6 separate regions of the Homo sapiens genome follow, and regions 2, 3, 4, 5 and 6 are each reported to be linked to region 1. Evidence: microRNA targets listed by miRTarBase, many of them from high-throughput screens and not tested one by one. Region 1 holds a microRNA gene; each other region holds the end of a gene's coding sequence.
What was found. Region 1 holds the annotated microRNA hsa-miR-6890-3p (CCACUGCCUAUGCCCCACAG, at 2,233-2,252, opposite strand). A microRNA usually pairs through its seed, bases 2 to 8, with sites in the 3' UTR of a target mRNA and lowers its output. Matches are read on the target gene's strand: a 7mer-m8 pairs with bases 2 to 8, a 7mer-A1 pairs with bases 2 to 7 and ends in A, and an 8mer does both.

Region 1 (4,000 bases):
CCATCTCTACTAAAAATACAAAAAATTAGCCGGGTGTGGTGGCAGGCGCCTGTAATCCCAGCTACTCGGGAGGCTGAGGCAGGAGAATCACTTGAACCTGGGAGGCAGAGGTTGCAGTGAGCCGAGATGGTGCCATTGCACTCCAGCCCCGGGCGACAGTGCAAGACTGTCTCAAAAAAAAAGGCAGCCTTCATACAAAATTTTGTGCCTGGAGTTATCCTCAGTGCCAGTTTCCTCACTAGTAGAATATGAATACCAACTCCCTCAGGTGGTGAGGATTAACTAAGGGAATGTATGCAGAGCACTTGGCACAATGAACGGCAGCCACTGTCACTGCTGCAGATGAGGGCAGGTGAGTAAAGTCAAGCACCTTTCCCTGATGGCTGTCTGGATCCACGGAGAAATATCCAAGACGCTCAAACTGGAACTTGTCGAAGGGTTTTGCCAGGGCCACAGAGCAGTCCACTAATGCTGCATCCACCACGTGTAGTGATGCCTGCAGGCAGGGAACTCAGGCAACCATCCAACCAGGGAGGCCTACCTCCCTCACCCCAAACCTCATGAACCTACCAGGTTCAGGTCACTTAAAAATCCACCAGGCACCTCAGTAGGATCTTCAGGGTTCTTGTGCTGGAATCTGCAGCCAAAGTGAAGGTCATACCCCCAGCTGGGCAGCCATAGCAGGCAATGTGCATCTTGTACCTGCCCCCACCCCAGCTCTGTTCACTCACAGTCGCTCATAGAGGCGAACCTCACACATCAAAGGCTGTGACACCCAGTGAATAAAGGCCTTTGGCTTCTCTCCAGCATCTGCCCGTCTGCAGGTCACCTCCAGACTCTCTACACAACCACTGGGGCCCTGGAAGTGGGGGGAGGGGAGCAGCAATTAGACCCGGGAACCACAACCAGGACTGCAGGCTATACTCACATCTTGGCCCCAGCAGGCACTGCAGTAGGAAGGCTGCAGCTGGCTCTCACCTTGACAACATGCTGCAGCTCAATGACGTAGCCTGTATGCCTCAGGCCCACAGGCTGGCCCCAAGCCAGGCGCTTAAATCCTGGCTCTGGCTCCTAGAGATAGGAAGTGGGGTAGACACATGAGGCTGCAAGGGTCAAACAAGTGGGGAAGCTTCCCTACCCCCGTGTCTGGCAAAGATTGGTTCATCTGAAGCAGGAAGTAGATGGACTGACAGAGATGAGGAGATGAAAGGTTCCCAGTACCAGACTCAGCAGCAAACGGGACCCTCCACCCCCACAATTTACCTCCTTGAAGTCAGTCCTCTCAATGAAGACAATGGGTGCAAAGGGAACCTGATGGAAGCCTTTGGTCTCATCAGCTGGGAAGTTGGGCACCTGGATGTCCAAGGACTATAGCAGGAGACAGGAGACAGGTATGAGTCATACTCAGCATTAGGACCCCCATGCCCAGAGCCAAGTGTACCCCCAGCTACACACACACATGTGACACACATGTTGAGGCAGGCCCACCTTGGCAGCAGGAAAGTTGGTGATGATGACCCGTAGTGACTCCAGCACAGCCATGGCTCGTGGGGCTGTGTCATTCAGCACATCACGCACACAGGCTTCTAGAAGATGTGGCTCCATTGTGGTTTGTGCCACAGTCACTCCCACCTGGCAGGAAAGTTCAGCATCAGTCACAGCTACAATCACAAACTGCCACACTCAACCCCCAATGTATCTACCCAACCTGCTGGGCTATACCCGGGCACAGAAGTTGTTGATGGCCTCAGGTGGGAAGCCCCGCCGTCGCAGGGCCGTGAGTGTAAAGAGCCGTGGGTCATCCCAGTCCCTGTGGATAAGAAGGTGGTGAGAAGGCCTTTGGGAGCATATGCCATTAACCTTTCATAAGCCAAACAGCCGCACCTACCGCACAGCACCAGTTGCTACAAGCTGGAGGATCTTCCTCTTAGAGACAACAGCATAGTGCAGGTTGAGGCGGCCATACTCCCACTGCACAGGGCAATAGACGTCCAGTGCATTGCAAAGCCAGAAGTAGGAAGAGCGTCTGGGGTGGGAGAGTAGGGTTAGCACTGGCCAGCTCTGGAACCAGGCAGAGACCACAGGAAGGGCTGCTGGAATTCCACTGGCCCTACCACCCCATGGACCCAGCTCCCTCACCGGGCCTGGAATTCCTTGGTGCAGAGTGAGTGAGTGATGTGCTCGATGGAGTCACAGAGGCAGTGTGTGTAGTCGTAGGTGGGATAGATGCACCTGTGGGGCATAGGCAGTGGGCCCTACCATCCAGCCCTACTCTGCCCTACCCCATGGCCCATCGCCCTGCTCGGCAGCCCCACCACCCCACCCCATTCTACACCCACCATTTGTCCCCTGTGCGGTGGTGTGGTGTATACTTGACTCGATAGGCTACAGGGTCCATCTTGCCATCCTCCATCACCAGCTTCATCCGTAGTGTGGCCTCGCCCTCTGAAAACTTGCCCTTGCGCATTGCCTGAGGGGAACAAGGACTCAGGCTGTCTCTAAGCACAGGAGCATCTCATTCTCAGCACCTTGGCCCACCCAAACCCAGATGCTCCTCTAGGACCCCACCTCAAAGAGCAGCAGTGACTCCTCCATGGGACGGTCTCTCCAGGGTGAAGGCAGAGTATTATGGCCTTTGAGCTCCTCTCCTCGCTGGTGGCACACATAAGCCAGACCCCTGTGGGGAAGCGGTGTGAGTGCCCAGCATGGCTGTGACCTAGTCAGTCTGCCTGGCTCTACGTCATGGCCCTGGCCTTACCTGCGGATGAGCTCCACAGCCCACGCATATAGCTGGTCAAAATAGTCAGACGCATATGTGACTTTGTAAGGTGTGTAGCCTGGGGCAAAATGAAACAAAGTATGAGCAGCCAGCCACAAACACCCAGTGGGCAGGCCATGGCCCAAGGAGAGGCCCACTAACCACCAGCCCTTCTAGGCTTTGCCTAGTCCATACCTAGCCAGGCTACCATGTCACAGATGGCCGTGAAGAACTTTGCTTCCTCCTTCTCAGGGTTGGTGTCATCAAAACGCAGAAAACAGATGCCATTGTTGGCCTAGGAAAGTTGCACCATCTGTGAACTCCCACATCATCCATCAGCCCCACAATCCTGTTTATCAAACTAGGATATTCACAGAGCACTCTCATGTCAGAATTTTCTTTTTTTTTGAGATGGAGTCTTGATTATCTTGCACCATCTTGGCTCACTGCAGCCTCCACCTCCTGGGTTTCTCCTGCCTCAGCTTCCCAGTAGCTGAAACTACAAGCGTGTGCCACCATGGCCAGCTAACTTTTGTATTTTTAGTAGAGATGGGGTTTCACCATGTTGGCCAGATTGGTTTCGAACTCCTGACCTCAAGTGATCCACCCACTTTAGCCTCCCGAAGTGTTGAGATTACAGGCGTGAGCCACCCAACCCGGACTCATGTCAGAATTAAAAATGTCTTCAAGAGCTTCTCTCACCTTCCTGTATCTAACCTAGCATCTTTCTAAGCCTAGGGACTGCACTGGCAACTCCCCCAAATTTGAACTCACTGACTCCTCAGAGGGAGGGAGCTATTTATTCCAATAAGCTCAATAGATTCCTAGGTATCTGTCACACATGTGGTTCCTTTCCATGGCCTCTGCCCACCTGGGTACATTATTGGGAGCAGACAGCAAGGCAGGGATATGGTATCCACTCATGGGAACAGCAAGTGGTCATCTTGCTTGCCAGGTCCCTAGACACATGCTTACCTTGGCATAGCCAAAGTTGAAATTGATGGCTTTGGCATGTCCAATATGCAGGATTCCATTGGGTTCTGGCGGGAACCGGGTACGTACCTAAAATAAGGGGGATGGGAAAAGAGAAATAAAGTCTGAGCTCAGATGACCTTAAAGAAACAGATGTTCCCTCCCAGGAAGGCCATGGTGATGGGTGAGATGGGGCAGTATGGACGCAGCCCAGGCACTCAGGCAGGTGTTTGATGGCACAAGCTCACATGGCCACATCCCCACACACCT
Region 2 (4,109 bases), not on the chromosome of region 1:
GGAGCAAAACCATGGTACAAGGAATTCTTGCAGCTGATCGGTTATAGCAACTTCCAGAGAGTGGAAGAATACTGCGAGAAAGTATGGTGCACAGATAGAAAGAGGAAAAAGCTTAAAATGTCACCCTCCAAGTGGAAGTATGCCAACCCTCAGGAAAAGAAGCTCCGTTCCAAACCTGAGCATTACCGCCTGCCCAGGCACACGCTGGACTCCTGATGGGGTGAGACTATCTACTGTCTTTTGAAGAATTTATATTTGGAAAGTAAAAAAGTAAAAAAATAAATCATCCAACTTCTTTGCATTACTTAAAAGAGATTTCTGTAATACAGGAATGACTATGAAGGTGTTATAATAAATTATTCTACATACTCATTTGACTGGATAAACTTTACATAAAATTAACTAATTTTTTAAATAAATGCATTGCTTAATGGTTTCTCATTATGTTTATCAAAAAACAACTGTAGCTGTTATTTTCAGTACTTGGCTGCTTTTCTGTGAAAATTATTATTTTACTTTTGGAAGACAAGATTATTAGAATATTGAAGAAAAATTGGAGACTTATAATCATGGTAAATATAAAACTAAATATGTTTTAATATTTCTGAATTTTTCTTTTCCATCACAATGTAAGATATGCAGAATACAAGATACTTTGGCATTCTCATGTGAACTTTCTGTACTCTTTAAGGATTATTTTATTAGTGTTGTTTAAGCCATGAGTGTTAAGTAGCAGGTGTGTTGTGAGTGCTGTAACCCATGAAAGGAAAAATGTCATTCTGAGGCTTGTGCCCTTCGTAAAATATTCATTAAAGTACATTCACACTATTTTTGCTTTATAACACAGTCTTTAATTTTCACTCACTGTGGAAATAAAAACTAAGGTAACTTCTCAGAAAGATATCAAATCTCAGAAAGAATGTCAAATCAGATGAAGTTATAGTTAGGATTCTAACTACTGTAAAAGATTTTTGCTTCCCTCTTGTGGTAAAAAAAATTATATTCTCACACATTTCTTTTTTCTCTACAGACGGATATCTGTTTAGGAAAGATTTGAAAGCAGATTATCAGTAGGTACATGGATACATCAAGTTCATTTGCAGAAACAAATAACTGAAATAAAAAACATGTTAATCCTTGTATCATACTTTAATATGAAAGTATTGTTTATAGATAATTTATCTCACAAGTCAAAAATGAAGATTTTGCAGCACTGAAAATCTATTAAAGCTCCAAATTTTAAGTTTCTAAATAATCTTCGCTGAAATCTAAAATATACTATAACAACCGTGTTTTATTTGTGAAAAAAATATTAAAGTGATTTGCTCTCAAATATCAAATTTTCTTCTCTCTTTTATATTAAGAGACAGAAAATTGTTTCATGAGTTCACTTAACTACTGAGATATTCAGAGCATTTTTACCTCTCTCTTAAATGTTATAAAAAACAATTGTATTTTTAAGAATGTTTATTTATCAAAGTCTTTCCTTCTTCTATTAAATATTTAGCAATTACCTTTCTAAAATATGAAATTTTGTAAGATGTTTTCACCTAAATAAAAATTGAAAGCAAGTGGATTACACAGGAGAACCATTATGAACATTTATTTAGATATTAATCTTAAACAGTGTTTATTTCAGTTTTCAAAGTTAGCTTATAGGTTATACATTTAAGTTAAAGTGCTCATAATCACTTGCAATTTCATTGTAAAATGAACAAATACATAAATATTTTAAGAAAAATTTAAGTTTATTCAGATAAGTCACCATGCTTCAAAAGATCTAAGAAATGCAAATATACTGAAAATTGACATCCTCTGAAAATTCCACTTGCTATTTACCCAAGAATCCACTGGAGGTCATTACTGCCATTAAATAATAACTGAAAAGACTATGTAGTGAAATGTATTTTTAAAAACTATATTCAGTAAAAGCCTGCTCAATTTGGAGAAATAGAACCACAAACACAGATCACAGGGGCCTTACAAAGTTTATGTCTGAACAAATAAGTCAATTAAGTACACTTTATTGAAAATTGCCTTCCATTAACACACAAGAAAGAAAGCAGGATTTTCTCCTGTATCTGAATTTTAAAATTAAAAAGGCAGATAAGACATAAATAGTTATCATTTTAATTGCAATAACACAGACAAGTAGTTAATGATGATAACAATGGTGTAACTTGTAAACTAAATATTTGGTAACTGAAGCAATAGGCAGAGGAAAATAGCTTTTCTATGACACAAGTCATAAGAAGTCCATATACTGAAGAGCGTTTGATTAAAATAAAGTGACTATTAACCAGAAAAGAAACATTTTACATAAAATGCTAAAATTTATTATAGGAAAATAAATCAAACCCAAAGAAAGTTTATTCAATGCTAATTTGAAAGAAAATTGATAAGAAAACTTTGAGGGCCCAAGTCCACAATTTGGTGAGACCACTAAATTTTACATATAATTATACACACACATATGTACATATATATGTATATAATCTTGCTTCCCGCCTGTTTATGGCAGTACTGAAGAGAAATGGGAAAGAAGAGGGAGGGAGAGAGAAAGACGAAGGGAGAGAGAAAGCAGTTTCCAAGGATATGTTTCATGTCCCACCATTTTCTCAGTTTCTCCCTCTCTCTCCCAACACACACACACACACACCCCTCACATACTATAAAATAAATCTTCACTGCCCTATCAAAATACAAATAAATCAATCTATGCTGTTCTGTCCTTCTTGAGAATCTAAAACATACCACAAAAATACATCCCCAGTCTTTTGTTCTGTCTGAGGTTAGAATTAATTCAAATTCAGAATCTGTTGTGAGAAATGCCCAGGCTTTAAAAATTAAAAATGGATGGATCTTCTCTGAACTCAGGGAGGGCACATACTTAGATACCTACAAGACTTGGAGGAATTAAGAGTTCACCCTTCATCTCACCAAATTTTCCCCATTTTTCTCTTTCTTGTAGAAGGAGAGAAACCATGCTCTCTAGCAACATTGAGCAAAAATCATAACCACTCATCTAATTTCTAAGAGGCACCTCCATCGAGGGCCGGTCTCCTGCTTCTTTAGACCTCTTCTATCTTTGTTACAGGAGAGGACCTGTGGATAGACTTAGTTTTGACATAAAACAATGCCCATTCACCTCCTCCTTCAGCACAACGTCACCCATTGGGCAAGAGATCCAGATTTGTTAACAAAAAAGATTTTACTTCGTGATTCCACGTCTATAATTCTATATTGCTAATTTTTTCTTTTGTGTGAATTACTGAATATTTCAGAGCAAAGCTATCAACTTGGAGAAACAGGGATTAAAAATAAGGATAAACACTAATAAGAGCTCTAGAAAAAAGGGAACAGAAAGTCTGCCTGTTTAGTAAGTGGCAATTCCATACATATTTTAGAGTTTTTTCTATCTAAAATTAGTTAAATACTTAGAATGTTTGTAATGAGTGTTCGATATTTGCTATAGGTTTTAGGGTTTTGTAAATCTTCATAGTAATTATAAACATTTGTAAAATTTGTAAAATACTATAAGTCATTTTGAGTGTTGGTGTTAAGCATGAAACAAACAGCAGCTGTTGTCCTTAAAAATGAATTGACCTGGCCGGGCGCGGTGGCTCACGCCTGTAATCCCAGCACTTTGGGAGGCCGAGGCGGGTGGATCATGAGGTCAGGAGATCGAGACCATCCTGGCTAACAAGGTGAAACCCCGTCTCTACTAAAAATACAAAAAATTAGCCGGGCGCGGTGGCGGGCGCCTGTAGTCCCAGCTACTTGGGAGGCTGAGGCAGGAGAATGGCGTGAACCCGGGAAGCGGAGCTTGCAGTGAGCCGAGATTGCGCCACTGCAGTCCGCAGTCCGGCCTGGGCGACAGAGCGAGACTCCGTCTCAAAAAAAAAAAAAAAAAAAAAAAAAAAAAAAAAAAAAAAAAAAAATGAATTGACCTGTGACACCTGTAGCCTAATAAACATATTAAGAAAAGTACTTAGTATTGTATAGATATTTGGATTCCAAGAGAAAATGCAACATTTATAATAAGAAGTCCATACTCTTTTTCTTACAGCAGAGCGTCACACTGAGTTCCATTTTAAAAAAGGACTCAT
Region 3 (4,109 bases), not on the chromosome of region 1:
CCAGGCCAGTCTCGAACTCCTGACCTCAAGTGATCCACCCACCTCGGCCTCCCAAAGTGTTGGGATTACAGGTGTGAGCCACTGCACCTGGTCATTACTGCTAGTTTTAAAAACAGTGATATATCTCACCACCACACAGTATCTTATATCCTGACCTGGTAATACAAGAAATGTAGAATATTTAGAGAACTAGTAAAGATATATTATCAAAACATAGGCAGTATATTTAAAAATTTTAGAACCCATTTGATGACCAAATTAGTGGTATTAATTTTGTTTCAGGGTTAATGTAGCACTTTGATATTCCCCTAGTCTTGTGACATTGTTACTCTGGTTCTATAGACCCACTAGTTAGATCACTAAAATCACTTTTAGATATGAGCTGCCACAGAGTAATGTAGTTTAATATAAACAACAATGTAATTGTGATGTCAATAAGTTCTTTACTTGTGGCTTAATAATTAAAAAATAACAATATACTTTGAATTATATTTATCACGAGTAAGACTATAAAAATGCATAAAAGTATGTTTATGTGTTTTTTTTCCTTCTACAGTGAGAAAGTCAACAAAGGAATTGGCATTGAAAATATCCATTATTTAAATGATGGGCTGTGGCATATGAAGACATATAAATGAGCCTCAGAAGGAATGCACTTGGGCTAAATATGGATATTGTGCTGTATCTGTGTTTGTGTCTGTGTGTGACAGCATGAAGATAATGCCTGTGGTTATGCTGAATAAATTCACCAGATGCTAAAATTCTGTTAGCTTCAGAAATTATTTTAAGTTTTCTTAAACTCAAGTTAAAATTGGGTAGCAAACTTGGACATTAAAAGGTATCTGGTAAGTAAGCAAACTCATACAACTAATGTCCTTTCTTAGGCTAATGATATAAGAGTGAAGAGCAGGACTTGGTCAATGGATTGCCATTTTATGGTAGACCTCTAGAGAAACTGTCTAGTTAAATGGGGCTAGAAACTAGACTAGGAATTTTATTCTATTACTCCAGGGGACCCAGCAGTGCTCATTCTCGTGTGTGTGTGTGTGTGTGTGTGTGTATGTGTGTGTGTGTGTGTGTGTGTGTTTTGTTGATTGTTTTTTTAAAAAAAACTTCAATGGAAAATTCTAAACATATTAAGAAGTCTGGAGAATAGTATAATGGACCTCTCCATATCCATCACCCAGTTTCAGTTTATGGTCAGTCTTATTTCATCTATACCTCAATTATTTCTCCCCACCCCCCAATTATTTTGAAGCAAATCCCAGACATCCTATCATTTCATCCATAACTACTTTATTCTTTTTTTTTTTTTTTTGAAACAGGGTCTTGCTCTGTTGCCCAGGCTGGAGTGCAGTGGTACGATCTTGGCTCACTGTAACCTCCACCTCCCGGGTTCAAGCGATTCTTGTGCCTCAGCCTCCTGAGTAGCTGGGATTACAGGCACGTGCCACCATGCCCGGCTAATTTTGTATTTTTGGTAGAGATGGGGTTTCGCTATGTTGGCCAGACTGGTCTTGAACTCTTGGCCTCAAGTGATCCGTCCCCCTCTGCCTCCCAAAGTGCTGGGATTACAGGCATGAGCCACCGTGCCCAGCTAATTTTTATATATTTTATAGTTGGCCAGGCTGGTCTTGAACTCCTGGCCTCAAGTGATCAGCCTCCCAAAGTGCTGGGATTATAGGCATGAGTCACCATGCCTGGCGTCATAACTACTTTAGTGTGTATCTTTAAAAATTAGAAAAACCCCACAATACCATTATCACACCTAAAAAGTTGAACTGTTTCTTAATATGATCAACTGTCTAGACTGTTAATTCTCTTTAACTGTTGGTTTGCTTGAAATAGGTACCACACAAGGTTCATACATTGCATTTGGTTGTTATTTATTGAAGTCTGTTTAATTTATAAGTTACCTTTTCTTTTCCCCCTTAAATTATTTAAGAAATCTAGTTGTTTTGTCTTTAAAGTTTCCACACATATTCTGGATTTTGTTGATTGTATCACTGTGAAGTCATTAACTTGTTTTTATGCCTCCTGTATATCCTGTAAACAAATAAGATTGATCAGATTCAGGTTCAGTTTTTTTAGTGCCTTCTTTTGAGTAAAGTCATACCAAACAGATGCCCAGAACATCTGGATTTGGGTCCCCACTAGACTCCTTAAATAATGTATATCTTCTATAAGTGGAATATGAGGGACATGGACCTGCTTTAGTAAGAACAGTAATCTGTTTGGGGAGTTAAAAGAGCAGTTGTGGATTTATTTATTGATAAAGACCATTTTTCTTCCTAATAACCTTGCTGTTATTCTAGTGTCTTAGCCATCTTCATTTGGTTGTTTACCAATATATGACATGTGATTTTATTTTTCAGATGGATACAGACATATACAAGATTGTGGTGACCTGTGTTACAGTTAGAAGTTGGTGAGAAAGGTGAGGGTGGATAGCAAAAAGAGAGAGATCATTTGGCTGGCTGTTCCAGCTGGGTCTCCCAGGATGTAACATAGGTGGACATAGATCCAGGGTCTGACCCTCAGCTTGAGAAACCATTTCCCACTGATGAAACTTGAGAGACTTGGAGATTCCCCAGTTAGAATATAAATGTATTAATTCATAGTGATAGGTCTGCCTATGGTAAACAATTAGGAAACAGGAAGTTACTTGGTAAACACAGGTATGAGCAAAGGAAGATTGATAAATTGGGGTAATATTTCAGTTGTGCTGAGGTAAGACTTGGAGAATTTTTCCTGCTTCATCATTAATTAGAATGCTTATCTCTGCCAAAATCTCATCTCTTTCCTAGCCCATAGAGGTGCCCTGATATTTTATTTCCTATATCCTTTTCAAGTTCCATGTAGTTTTCCTTATGTTATGACAGTTTTATTCTGCAGCTTACCATATTATTTATTCCTGGTCCACGAAAGTATAAATAGTCTCATCAGGAACTCATTTGTAAGTCATCTCCCAGGGGGGTTTCTTCAACAGATAGTTTAATTTTTTGCTGACTTACTGGCTTCAAATTCAGATGTCTCCCTATTTGGGGGAGGAGGCACCCTATTTGAGGCCTGTAGCTCCTTATGTTCTTAAAAAGAATATACAAGTCATTTATGTCAGAATCAAACTTTGAACCTTTATTTTTGTTGCTAAGAGAATGTTTTTTGACCAAGACTGCCTATGGAGTATTAGCAATGAAAAACAAAGCACACATATACATACATTAGAGAAGTAAAAACTTTTAATAGCTTGGTTTTTGAAATAATTCATCTTTGTGTCTAACCACTGTTACAGTGGGTGTAAGGAACACTTTTTAAATATTCAACATCAACATCTGTGCTTGTTTTTCTACTGTGCTGAGGTACACTGTGTTGCCTTGGTGATATGGACTAAATATGTATGTTCTCTGCTTCCCCTGGGTCTGAGGCCTCTGCTCATCACTGTTAATCAGGGATGTCACTCTACATGTGTGATCCTTGTCATTTTCTAAACATTAGGTCATACATGAAAGGCAATTCAAAGAGATTAAACTAGCAGATGTGTCAGCATCTTTAGATACTGTGCTTAATGGAAACTTAGTTTACCTATATTCGTGAGAATAGGAATACAGGGATAGAGAGCCTGCTTCTCTCAGGCAGTGTGTCTTTAGTTCATTTTTAGTTTCAAAATTAAGTTTGTGTCAAACCAACCTACAATCTAGTAACTTGTGTATTGGACTCACTTTTACTCAGACAAGGTCAGTTCAGCTCAATAGGTATTTATTGAGTATCTACTAGGTTCTAAGTGACGTGGCATGAAGATGAATAATACAGAAGTAGCCCTTGCTCTTAAGGAGCTTCCAATCTAGTGAGTAAAGAAAATTTACATTTTAAATAATCTGGGTAATGGTGACAGCCCAATACTAATATGTAAAGCCAGTAGGAATGTACTAATCCTTTTCCAATTTTAGTCATCAAAAATTGTAAATTACAAATGAACTAAATGTAGTAATATTCCATAGATTGTATCCAATGTGAGGGTAAAAAAAAAATCCCAGATGTCTTGGAGTTGCCGTGATTCAGCATCCCAACTCAGATGATTGTCCTGTTGTCCGGTGACATAATGGCCTGAT
Region 4 (4,109 bases), not on the chromosome of region 1:
TAATATTTACTGAGCTCACTCTGGGCCAAAAACCTACACTAAGCACATGACCTGCATGATGCCTTTCAATCTTAAAAATCGCCCTGAGCAGGTGTAGGTTCTGTTATCATTCCCATTGTGCAGATAAAGGAAGAGGGACTCTTTGGCATAATAAATGTCATGCCAAAATTAGTAGAGGGCATAGCAGGAATTTTATTCCATGCAGCCAACTCTGGAATGTGTAGGATTGGACCTCTACACCCCATTTTTCTCATTTGTGTCCTTCTCTTCACCCTTACAGGCACCCTGCTGACAGTCCAGTTTGTCCATGCTGTGGTAAACAGAATCATCCCAACCACCAGTGGCTTCATTGCCCCCACCAGGCATGGTTATCTGATCCGAGAGAATTTCCAGTGCCTTTCAGCAAAAGCCTCACCGCAGGACCCTCTTAAGAACTTCAAGAAGGCAATGTGGATGGTCAAATCCAGGCAGAGAGAGGAGCTAGTTGCAGCTGCAGGAGCTCCCCAGGACTTGGAGTCAGAAAGTGCCCAGGGAAATGAAACCAAATCAAACAAATGCTCACAAGTGTGCCTGATAGTGTAAAAAAATAAAAATAAAAAAACCCTGTGGGGGTATGGGGCTCCAGTGAGTTAGCCCCATTTAATCTAGTTAAAGCAAAAAGAATACGTTTGCTGGTGTATATCTGGACCCATGGCTTCAGATTATGGCTTCAGACCTTGTCTCTTCTCATCTTTCCATTATTCTTTCCTCTTTTTCATTTTCATTCTCAGACTTGCCACCCCCAGGTTAGCAACATGGTGGCCAATATGCTGCTGTCTCCAATTTCAATAGAAAAGAGAGCTTCTCTTTCCCAACAGTCCTAGCCTCAACTCTACTGGTCCCAATTGGCCCATACGCCTAGCCCTAAACCAATTATTATATCTGGGAGAATGCAGAGCTCTAATCGGCTAGACTGATCCAATGTCCACCACTGGGACTGAGAATAGAAGAGATTACTCCTGAGATGCAAACTGGAGTTCTGGTACCAGATGAAGGGGGAACGGATGAATGTGAGATACAGCAAATCACTGATGTGGACCACAGAACCTCACAGTTTATAAAGCTGTAGGTGCTGTCATCTGATCCTCATCACAACTCATACTTTAGGGAGGGCAGGAGTTTCTGTATCTATTTTACAGATGAGGAAACTGAGCCTTGCGGAAGTAGTTATAATTTGATTCAGGTCACAAGTCCAAGGTGCAAGAGCTCTGAGAGTGAGCCTTCTGTCCCATTCCTGTTAGACCTCACTCCAATTTCAGTCTGCAGAGCACAACCATCTCTTCCACAGGCACCACACTCAAATGCTCACAGGAGCTAGTGACTAATCTAGACACTTCCATGCACCTGGGTGAGCAGCAGGGAGAGACAGAGACTGGACATGTGGAAGGCAGAGATTGTGTCTAGGGTGGGTATGAGCAGCCTGACTGTAGCCCAGAATCACCATGGCCAAACAAGCCCACTGCTGTCAGTGCTTCCAGTTGTAATAAGCAAAGCCAGAAATCCAGACTTTTATGCAAAAATGTTCTGACTTTTAAAGTTGGCGATTGGTTGAATTTATATCTATAGTGCATTTGGCATGTGCGTCTTTGGTTAATGAGCTGACTTCAGGACTCACGCTGGCAGTAAAACAATCAACATGTTATAGTTCATCCCTCTCTATTCCTTGGCTCCCAAACTTTTGGGATAAAGATGTGGGTTTTTAATCTTAAAAACTGGAGGCTCTTGGAAGTAGAAAGAGCTGCTGATCTCTCCCTGCTTTGCTTTTGAACTGTCTGCCTTGTGCAAGTTCAACAGTCAAACTGTTTTCATTCCACTTAAGTGGATCTTTCTTCTTTGCCCACAGCCTTCTAAAAGCCCTTCTCAGTCTTCTCAGGCTTTTACTTTAATGCTAGGATAGTCTAAATCTTCAAGGTGGCTATCCCTTCTCCCCTCCGTGGAATTCCTGATAGAGTCTCAATAAAAGCAACCTTAGAAACAGAGGCTTTTGAGCTGAACAAGACCCTACTGCTGTCTTATTCATCCATTTTCCAAACCAGTTTTCCAAGGCAGGTTTTGGTAGTTCTGCAAATGTTAGTGTCAAATTTCATTTAAAAATATTTTAAACTGTAATTTTAAGATGTATGCTTGGATGTATTGGGCAGCAGCTTCTAAGGTGTTGAAGATTACTAAGGTTGGTGCAAAAAGTAACTGTGGTTTTCGCCATTAAAAATATTAAAAATAATGGCAAAAACTGGCTGGGCACAGTGGCTCACACCTGTGGTCCCAGCTCTTTGGAAGGCCGAGGCAGGTGGATCACCTGAGGTCAGGAGTTTGAGACCAGCCTGGACAACATGGTGAAACCCTTCTCTACTAAAAATACAAAAATCAGCCAGGCATGGTGGTGAGTGCCTGTAATCTCAGTTACTCAGGAGGCTGAGTCAGGAGAATCACTTGAACCCGGGAGGCGGAGGTTGCAGTGAGCTGAGATTGTGCCACTGCACTCCAGCCTGGGTGACAGAGCAAGACTCCATCTCATAATAATAATAATAATGGCAAAAGCCTCGGTGGCTCACGCCTGTAATCCCAGCACTTTGGGAGGCTGAGGCGGGTGGATCACTTGAGGCCAGGTGTTCAAGAGCAGCCTGGTCAACATGGTGAAACTCTGTCTCTACTCAAAAATACAAAAATTAGCCTGGTGTGGTGACGTACACCTGTAATTCCAGCTACTTGGGAGGCTGAGGCAGGAGAATGGCTTGAACCCGGGAGGCGGAGGTTGCAGTGAGCCGAGATCGCACCACTGCACTCCAGCATGAGTGACAGAGACTCTGTCTCCAAAAAAAAAAAAAAAAAAAAGTAATGGCAAAAACCACAATTAATTTTGCATCAACCTAATAATTTAGGATTCTTCTGCCATTTTCATTTAACTGATTTAACTGAAGAGCCCAATTAAATTGTGAAGGGAGCCCTGAAAAAATTAGCTACTCTTTGCCACTGCTTCTCTGTGAATCAAGGGCTTACCCAATGCAGAAATAAAGTAGATGTTGAGACCAATTAAGATTTCACCTACAAATTCTGATTTTAAATGCCTGTGTCCATCTCCACAGCCTCAGTGAGAATTGATTGTTTTGTAGATAAATCCTAATTTAAACATTGGAAATGCCTTTTTACTAATAAAATGCTACAACAAATTATTGCTTATATTGGGAGTTTTTGCAGTGTTTATTCATTTGAAAAAGAGTTTGGTTGCTAAGAAAGTTTGACAGTTGGCTGGTCAATGCTTGTAATCCCAGCACTTTGAAAGGCCAAGGTAGAAGGATCACTTGAGCCCAGGAGTTTGAGACCCTGTCTCTCCAAAAAAAAAAAAAAAAATTTTTTTTTAATTAGCTGGGCATGGTGGTGCACACCTGCAGTCCTAGCTACTCAGGGGGCCAAGGTGGGAGGATCACTTGAGCCCAGGAGATCAAGGCTGTAGTTAGCTATGATCGCACCACTGCACTCTAGCCTGGGCAAGAGAGTGAGACCATGTCTCAGAAAAAAAATAAAATAAAATTAAGGGATGCCGAAAAGCTCAGCAATCATGACAAATAATGTTTTCTCTCTCTTTTTTTTCTTGTTTTCTTTTCTTTTGGAAGACAAATAATATTTTGTTATCTTTTTTTTTTTTTTTTGTCAAGGCCTTGCTCTGCTGCCAGACTAGAGTGCAATGGTGCGACCTCGGCTCATTGCACCTCTGACTCCTGGATTCAAGCGATTCTCCTGACTCAGCCTCCTGAGTAGCTGGGACTACAGGCCACCACGCCCAGCTAATTTTTGTATTTTTTGTAGAGACGAGGTTTTGCCATGTTGGCCAAGCTGGCCCTGAACTCCTGACCTCAAGTGATCTGTGCTCCCTTGGCCTCCCAAAGTGCTGGGATTACAGGCATGAGCCACCGTGTGTGGCCTATTATCATATTTTTAAAAATCAAAATGAATTTAAAAATGAATGATGAACAAAACATCAACATTCTATATAAAATTGGTATCTGACCCTGCATTTGCAGGAACTGACCTCACCCTCTTCCTGGCCCTGGGGACATCAAGACACCTCACCC
Region 5 (4,109 bases), not on the chromosome of region 1:
ACAATGTTGTAATTTAAACACCCCCTCCCTGCAAAACAGAGATGTTACACTGTGCAAGAGGTGTACATTCCGGAATTATTTCCTGCTGGATCTCAAAACTATTTTAAGCAAAAGCATGTCACTCACCAAGCATTCACGAACTCAGAGCCAACTGGTGTCCTCACTCCCAGGTTTTGCAAAGGTCCCTTCTCTTCCTTGCCAAGGAAAAAATGTTCTCGTTCTGTATCGCGGAATTAATAAAATCGCCAAGACTTTGCTATAACTTTCCGTGCTTCCTACTCTCGAATAGTGAACCTGTCTCAATATCGGAAAAGACAGAAGCGACTGCCCTCTTGCGGGCACTATTGTCACTGCATCTATTTTGGTATCAAAAGCACTAACTGCACTTGAGGACCAGGTGTTTCACCTTCTTGCCAGGTGTGGGTGAGAGTCACGCACGTAACTGAGTAGGTATTGATCATCTCATCTGAATTTTGTTCTACATCTCAACAGGTGTTGCACACACGAAACACTGCAACTATTTATAAAAGTGTGCTTATAGGAGCTTTCGTCTTGAGACGGAGTCCCACTCTATTGCCCAGGCTGGAGTGCAGTGGCGCAATCTCGGCTCACTGCAACCTCCGCCTCCCGGGTTCAAGTGATTCTCCTGCCTCCGCCCCCCAAGTAGCTGGGATTACAGGCACCTGCCATCACGCCCGGCTAAATTTTATATTTTTAACAGAGATGGGATTTCACTATGTTGGCCAAGCTGGCCTCAAACTCCTGACCTCAGGTCATCCACCTGCCTCGGCCTCCCATAGTGCTGGGATTACAGGAGTGAGCCACTGCACCCGGCCTAGGAGTTTTATTTATTTATTTAAAACAGTGTTTAGATACCAACTTGGCTTGCGTTTTCAAACATATTTATGTTATCTGTTTTTGAAATTAACATACATTTGGTTGTAGTAAAATACATGATATAGTTTGGATATTTGTCCCTGGCCAAAGCTCATGTTGAATTGTAATCCCCAGTGTTGGAGGTGGGGCCTGGTAGGAGGTGACTGGATCACGGGGGCGGTTTCTTAGGAATGATTTAGCACCATCCGCTTGGTGCTGTCCTCATGACAGTGGCGGTTCTCAAGGAATCTGGTCGTTCAGAGGAGTGTGGCGCCTCCCCCTCTCTCGCTCCTGCTTTCACCATGTGACGCGCCTACTCCCTCTTCGCCTTCTGCCTTGATTGTAAGTTTCCTGAGGCCTCCCCAGAAGCCAGGCAGATACCAACATCATCCTTCCTGTACAGCCTGCGGAACTATGAGTCAATTAAAACTCTTTTCTTTATAAATTACCCAGTTTCAGGTATTTCTTTATAGCAATGTGAGAAAGGACTAACACAACATAAAATTTACCATTTTAGCTATTTTTAAATGTATGGTTCAGTGGAATGATTAGGTAGATTCACACTGTTGTGTGGCCATCACCATGACTGATCTCCAGAACTCTTTCTTCATCCCAAATAAACTGTGTCCACTAAACACTAACTCTCCATTCTCCCTCACCCCTCAGTGCTTGGCAAACATCACTTTACCGTCTGTCTCTATGACTCTGACTGTTCTAGATACCTCCTATAAGTAAGATCATATAATACTTGTCCTTTTGTGACTAGCTGATTTCACTCAGCATAACGTCCTCAAGGTTCCCCCATGTTGTAGCATGTGTGAGGGTCTCCCTCCTTTTGAAGGCTACATAATATTCCACTGCATGTATATACCACATTTTGTTTACCCATTCACCCGTCCATGGAATTTGGGTTGTTTTCATCTTTGACTATTTTGAAAAATGCTGCTATGAACATAGGTGTGCAAATACCTCTTTCAGACTCTGCTTTTAGTTCTTCTGGGTATACGGTATATCTGGAAGTGGGATTGGTGGGTCAGATACTAATGCTATTTCCATTTTTTTTTTTTTTTTTTTGAGAAACTGCCATACTGCTTTCCCCAGTGGCTGCACCATTTAACATTCCCACCAACAGTGCACAACGGTTCCAATTTCTCCACATTCTCTCCAGACAAAGAAGATGTTTTTAAAGACCAATGCTGACATATAACAAATATAGCAATTTTAAGTCATTTCATTTTATTGAATTATGTAAAACATCTTTAAATAACAGTAAAAAAATTAAGAAACCATTGCACAAATTCAGTCACAATGATGGCATACTACAGCCCACAGAATTTAAATCTCATGTGAGTTGAGTTAAATTAATTTGCTGGTACAAAGAGAATATAATGCTCTTCCTGCTGGGAAATTATTTCCACATATTCACATTGTATAGGGATTCTGAACTTGTGATATTTTCAATAAAAGGTCCATATCTTAAGAATTTGAATTTAGGGCTTATCAATGATCTTGAAATACAGGGGTGGAGACAGGTTGGCAGCAAAACAAACTGCTCAACTAAGCAATGAAGAAAAATCTGCCTCTGTATCCAGATAGAAATGAATTTCAAGTGTTAAAGAGGCATCTCTCACGCTGCTCGAGGGTGGAAAAATCTTGTCAACTGGCAAAAGGGAAATACTCACTAATCACTGGGCATTATGAAAAAGTACAAATTCCTTACAGGTACACATTTGCCTTATCTGATTTTATGTTTCTTCTCACTCTGCCAATTATTTTACAAATATAAAAAGAGTAGTTTTAGCAGAAAAAAGGGTTATGGAGTGAAATACTAATAAGCAATAATGGAATGTAACCAGGGCAATTTCATACCTGCCAAGGAGCATAATTAAAAGAGAATACAAAAATCTAAAGGTGAACCTTGCTCCTATACCAAAGTAAAATCGATTTATTCCTTATTTTCTAGTCTAATCTAGTATTTCATTTCCTACTCAGTTTTCCTTTTTATAAGAGTAAAACATTTTTTGGTTGAATTTAGAACTAATTAAAAGCATTATGGTAGCTTTAAATTTTGTAGAAAATTCATTTGTATAAAAACATTTGTCTTTAATGTTTAAAACCATATATTATTAGAAATATCATGGGTGTATATAATGCAACATAAAAATGTCCAGCTTTGACTGTGGAAGCACTAGCTGGTCTAGACTATTTTGAAATATCCAAAAATCACTACTCACTCATTGTGGGCCACCTTGCCAATATCAAGTGAATGAATCCATAGGTTTGAGGTGTTACCCTCTCATTCAAGGTTTAAAACTTTTATAAAATACCTGCAATGTTTCTTTGAAATATCCAGCTACAAACAGGAGAACAATTCTAGACACTACCTCAAACTTGTGTCATCCATTGTCATGAACTTAATTGTTTCAAAGAAAATGCTAAAAATTTCTAACTTGCTTTAGGAATTAGGGGCAGTGAACATGCAACCTGACTCTCTCTCACTTATCCATCGTGTTGAGGAGCATTTCACACCTTAAATGCTAAAAACTTCTAACTTGCTTTAGGAATTGGGGGCAGTGAACACGCAACCCGAATCCCTCTCACTTATCCATCGTGTTGAGGAGCATTTCACAGGTCACGCCTTCATCCACTTCCTCTTTGACTCTGGCTGTGGTTTCTCTGCAGGCGACAGGAAACATCTCTCCTGGGAACTGTTCTCCCTTCGTGGTGGAAGCCTCCTCAGCAGCAGCTTCTTGAGAAAAAGTCCAGGATGAGCAAATTTATCAGAAAGCTAAGGAATTGGAATTTATAAACTGTGCAAATATATTTTGGAAACCATCACTTAAATTTGAACACGGCAGCAAGCATGTTAGAAAACAATCTAATTGATAAGATGGTACTATTCTGATCTCAACTACTGCCTTCAGTCAGGGCTTCTTAGCCTCAGCGCTACAGACGTTTGGGGCCAGAGAGCTGTCTGCTGGGGGCAGGGCGCTGTTCTGGGCACTGTAGGATGTTAGCAGCGACCCTGGCCTCTACCACTAGATGCCAGTAGCACCCTCCTCTCCAGCTGCAAAAACCATAAAAATGTCTCCAGACATTGCCAGTGTCCCCTGAAGGTGACGGGGGGGGGGTGGGGGGGGGACACAGTCATTCCCAGCTGGCATCAGCTGCTATAGGTGAATGTGGATCTTACAGATTTATATCGAGGCGGATCTCAGAGATTTATATTGTGG
Region 6 (4,109 bases), not on the chromosome of region 1:
ACTTGAAGTTACAAACTAACTTTAGCAGAAATGTTTATGGCTTTTTCTGGAGCATGTTACACACCAAGAACTGCTATATATGCTTTCCACATTTACATGTAAAAACATCTTCATGACTTACTAAGCTTCCCTTGTATTTACCTGAACAATTTGACTCCATAAATAAATTTACTTTGTCAATTATAAAAAGTAAAAAGAACAATAACTAAAGAATAGTAAGCTTATATAGGGTTCTCCAATTGAAAACAAAATGGAGTGTTCTAGCTAAATAAAATGTAACTTAATATACTAATTGTGGAATTACATATAAAATTATTTTGTATGCACATTTCATAAAAATTATTCTTATACTCACATTCCAGCTCACATAATGAATATTTCATAAACTATAAAATAAATATACAAAATACCAAAAAGTAGGGGTCTATCATGAGTACCAGGCAAGTATAAACAGAATTTGCATGGGGAGATTCCGAAGTATAAGGCATAGATTATACAGTAATAAATTCAATACAAAGCAGAGAGTATATGTTTGCTTTTGCATTTTTGAGGTTTTTAGTTTTCTAGTAGTCACCTTGTTAAAATGACTTGTTTTGTTCCTATATTGCTCTTTTTTTTTCTGAAAGTAGGGACAAACTCATATTCCATAGTTTTCTTACAACTAAGATTTATCTTTAGACTAATATATATTTAACTCTATGTAAATCAAAACTAAAAGTTTGTATGTGTTTGTAGGCAGACAGGCCACATGTTCAAAAATATATGTAAGAAAATTTTAATAATATTTATTCAGGACTCAGAAATGTATGGATTTTATTTATACTTGCATATTTTTTATTATGACCATAAAAATAACCCTGTAACCGATAACAATTGTACATTTTAAAATAACTAAAAGTGTAGAACTGAATTGTTTGTAATACAAAGGATAAATTATTGCTAGAAGTGATGGATACCCCATTTGCCCTGATGTGATTATTATATATGGTACTCCTGTATCAAAATATGCCATATATGGCATAAATATATACTCATATTATGTACCCACAAAAATTTTAAAAATAAATTTAAATAATTGAAAAAGAAAAATTTAACCTACAGAAGCAATATTCTTTAACTAATTTGCAGTTTAAACCCACTGACAAAAGAGATTACTCAAGATGTTAATCCACTATGTTGCCAAATAGTATATTGTTACCATCTTTTTTTTTTTTTTTGAAACAGAGTTTCACTCTTTCACCCAGGTGCAGTGCCGCGATCTTGGCTCACTGCAACCTCCACCTTCTGGTTTTAAGCGATTCTTCTGCCTCAGCCTCCCAAGTAGCTGGGATTGCAGGCGCCAGCCACCACAACTGGCTAATTTTTGTATTTTTAGTAGAGACGGGGTTTCACCACGTTGGCCAGGCTGGTCTTGAACTCCTGACCTCGTGATTCATCCACCTCAGCCTCCCGAAGTGCTAGGATTACAGGTGTGAACCACTACGCCTGGCCCCTTATTGTTATTATCTTTCATCTATACCTTTAAGTAAAGTGGAACAGGTTAAAGTTCGTGGCATAATAACACTTCATTGAATGCACAATAGTATTTAACATGTTAAAAATATTGGATTAAAATATTAACCACACATAACCTAACATTTTTAAAATACACTGGATTTTATTATACAAAAGTACAATTAGTACAATAATATACTAATTTATTTTCATTTAATTTTAAATAAAATTAAAAATGTTCTCACAACGCAAAATATTACTCTGAACACCTACCTAATGCATTATTCAATATAAATTAACCATAAAGAGCCTCTTCACTTAATTTTTCATCATGCATCTTACATTTTAATGTCCTTACTCTTTCATAGAAAAGATCATAAATAATGGCCACCTAATAAAAAAGACTCATGTTTTTAATGCAGCAATAACTGATCACATGCTTTCACATGTGAATACAACTGGAATAAAGAAACAGTAGGAAATATTTTGAGAGTTGAATTACATCATTATTTACAAAAAATCTGTAATTTTTTCAAGAAATAAAGTATACTTCAAACGTAATAACTCTGCAAAAAGCCCTTCTACTCCTTTTAAAGTTATATACAAATAATTTTTCTACCAACTTTAGTTGTTTTTTTTTTTTTTTTTTTGAAATGGAGTTTCACTCTTGTTGCCCAGGCTGGAGTGCAATGGCGCAATTTCAGTTCACTGCACTCTCCACCTCCCGGGTTCAAGCAATTCTCCTGCCTCAGCCTCTCGAGTAGCTGTGATTACAGGCATACACCACCACAGCTGGCTAATTTTGTATTTTTAGTAGAGCCGTGTTTTCTCCATGTTAGTCAGGCTGGTCTCAAACTCCTGACCTCAGGTGATCCACCCTTCTCGGCCTCCCAAAGTGCTGGATTACAGGTGTGAGCCACTGCACCTGGCCCCAACTTCAGTTTTATTTTCTATACTCAGCACTCTGATTTAGTATAATATCTGAAGTCTCAGTGCCTTATATATTTCTACAGTAAATTCTCTGATATTTACATAGACTTAATTTTGGATTAAATATTTTCATTTTTACTGCATCTGCAAAAATATATTTTAGTATGAACTCTGGTGTCTTCTAAGCTGTACTTTTTGAAAAAGTGTTTTTTAAAATTTATTAAATTTGCAAAGTTTTTCTTCAATATAAATTCCCTGATGTTGAACAAAGTTTGAGCAACTACTTCAGAGTTTTCTTCTAGTACAAAATGTGTACAATAAAATCTGTGATACAAATAAAGGTACTACAACCCTCTTCACATTTGTAGTGTTCATCTTCAAAATAAATACCTTCTTCGCTTTAAAGGTTTATATTTTCTGAAAGATCTTTTGACAGTAATTGCACTTATATTCCTTTTATTAAGTATGAACTCTCCAGTGGTAAGATGTGAATAGATATTAATGGCTTTTTCATGGTCTTTATATTTGTACAATTTTTTTCAAGTATAAATGCTCTCCTGTGCAATAAGGTGTGAGCATTCATTAAAAGTTTTGCCACACTGTTCACACTTGTAGAAGTTTTCTTCAGTATGAACTATCTTACCTATAATGAAGTGTGACAACCATTTAAAGGCCTTGTCACATTCTTTACATTTCTAGGATTTCTCACCAGTATGATTTTTTATGTTTAAAAGTTTTAGGTGTTGTCAAAAGCACTGTCACATCTTTCAAGTTTGTAGAGTTTCTTTTCAGTATGAATTATCTTTTTTTTTTTTTTCTGAGATGGAGTGCCACTCTTGTTGCCCAGGCTGGAGTGCAATGGCGCGATCTCAGCTCACTTCAACCTCTGCCTCCCGGGTTCAAGCAATTCTCCTGCCTCAGCCTCCCGAGTAGCTGGGATTACAGGCATGCACCACTACGCATGGCTAATTTTGTATTTTTAGTAGAGACAGGATTTCACCATGTTGGTCAGGCTGGTCTCGAACTCCCAACCTCATGTAATTCACCCGTCTCAGCCTCCCAAAGTGCTGGGATTACAGGTGTGAGCCACCGCACCCAGCCAGAATTATCTTATGTCTGGTAAGAATTGAGGACTTGTTGAAGGCTTTGCCATATTCTTCACACTCATAGGGTTCCTCTTCAGTATGAATGTTCTTATGTTTAGTAAGAATTCAGGACGGGTTAGAGGCTTTGCCACAATCTTCACATTTGTAGGGTTTCTCTCCAGTATGAATTACTTTGTTCAATAAGGTTTGAGGACTGGTTGAAAGCTTTGCCGTATTCTTCACAGTTGTAGGGTTTCTCTCCAGTATGAATTACCTTATGTTTAGTAAGAGTTGAAGACTGGCTAAAGGCTTTATCACATTCTAGGTATTTGTAAGATGTATCTCCAATATGAGTTATCTTATGTTTAGTAAGGTTTGAGAATTGGTTAAAAGCTTTGCCACATTCTTCACATTTGTAGGGTTTCTCTCCAGAATGAATTACCTTATGTGCAGTAAGTTTTGGGGACCGGTTAAAGGCTTTGCCACATTCTTCACATTTGTAGGGTTTCTCTCCAGTATGAATTATCTTATGTGCAGTAAGGTTTGAGGACTCATTAAAAGCTTTGCCACATTGTTCACATTTGTAGGGTTTCTCTCCAG

Region 2: miRTarBase lists SEMA3E as a target of hsa-miR-6890-3p. Seed matches in the 3' UTR shown: 7mer-A1 at 3,829-3,835.
Region 3: the mRNA of MCTS1 is a reported target of hsa-miR-6890-3p. Seed matches in the 3' UTR shown: 7mer-m8 at 3,632-3,638.
Region 4: miRTarBase lists NWD1 as a target of hsa-miR-6890-3p. Seed matches in the 3' UTR shown: 7mer-A1 at 2,492-2,498 and 7mer-A1 at 2,794-2,800.
Region 5: miRTarBase lists CTCFL as a target of hsa-miR-6890-3p. The part of its 3' UTR that is shown has no 7-base or 8-base seed match.
Region 6: miRTarBase lists ZNF430 as a target of hsa-miR-6890-3p. Seed matches in the 3' UTR shown: 7mer-A1 at 2,200-2,206.

What each region holds. Positions count from the first base shown.
Region 1 is chr3:49,097,622-49,101,621 of GRCh38, forward strand. MIR6890 (microRNA 6890) reads right to left here and starts at 2,293; the gene lies at 2,233-2,293. QARS1 (glutaminyl-tRNA synthetase 1) reads right to left here. Exons shown (of 24, transcript NM_005051.3): 9 at 3,999-4,000; 10 at 3,734-3,820; 11 at 2,954-3,053; 12 at 2,759-2,837; 13 at 2,569-2,677; 14 at 2,340-2,470; 15 at 2,140-2,232; 16 at 1,889-2,026; 17 at 1,723-1,810; 18 at 1,489-1,632; 19 at 1,264-1,368; 20 at 979-1,071; 21 at 732-859; 22 at 571-637; 1 more. RefSeq lists an enhancer at 2,733-3,233.
Region 2 is chr7:83,363,693-83,367,801 of GRCh38, reverse strand. It overlaps SEMA3E (semaphorin 3E), which reads left to right. Exons shown (of 17, transcript NM_012431.3): 17 at 1-4,109. The coding sequence ends at 216. Among named protein-coding and RNA genes, the nearest start is that of PCLO, 200 kb to the right of the region's middle.
Region 3 is chrX:120,611,627-120,615,735 of GRCh38, forward strand. It overlaps MCTS1 (MCTS1 re-initiation and release factor), which reads left to right. Exons shown (of 6, transcript NM_014060.3): 6 at 557-4,109. The coding sequence ends at 638. Among named protein-coding and RNA genes, the nearest start is that of MCTS1, 9.6 kb to the left of the region's middle.
Region 4 is chr19:16,814,748-16,818,856 of GRCh38, forward strand. NWD1 (NACHT and WD repeat domain containing 1) reads left to right here. Exons shown (of 19, transcript NM_001007525.5): 19 at 281-3,206. The coding sequence ends at 292. All of the region lies in intron 2 of LOC124904648 (a long non-coding RNA gene), which reads right to left. Among named protein-coding and RNA genes, the nearest start is that of SIN3B, 13 kb to the right of the region's middle. RefSeq lists a silencer at 2,733-2,929.
Region 5 is chr20:57,495,077-57,499,185 of GRCh38, forward strand. CTCFL (CCCTC-binding factor like) reads right to left here. Exons shown (of 11, transcript NM_001386993.1): 11 at 2,090-3,625. The coding sequence ends at 3,474. Among named protein-coding and RNA genes, the nearest start is that of CTCFL, 28 kb to the right of the region's middle. RefSeq lists an enhancer at 3,785-3,834.
Region 6 is chr19:21,057,579-21,061,687 of GRCh38, reverse strand. ZNF430 (zinc finger protein 430) reads right to left here. Exons shown (of 5, transcript NM_025189.4): 5 at 1,638-4,109. The coding sequence ends at 3,667. Among named protein-coding and RNA genes, the nearest start is that of ZNF714, 23 kb to the left of the region's middle.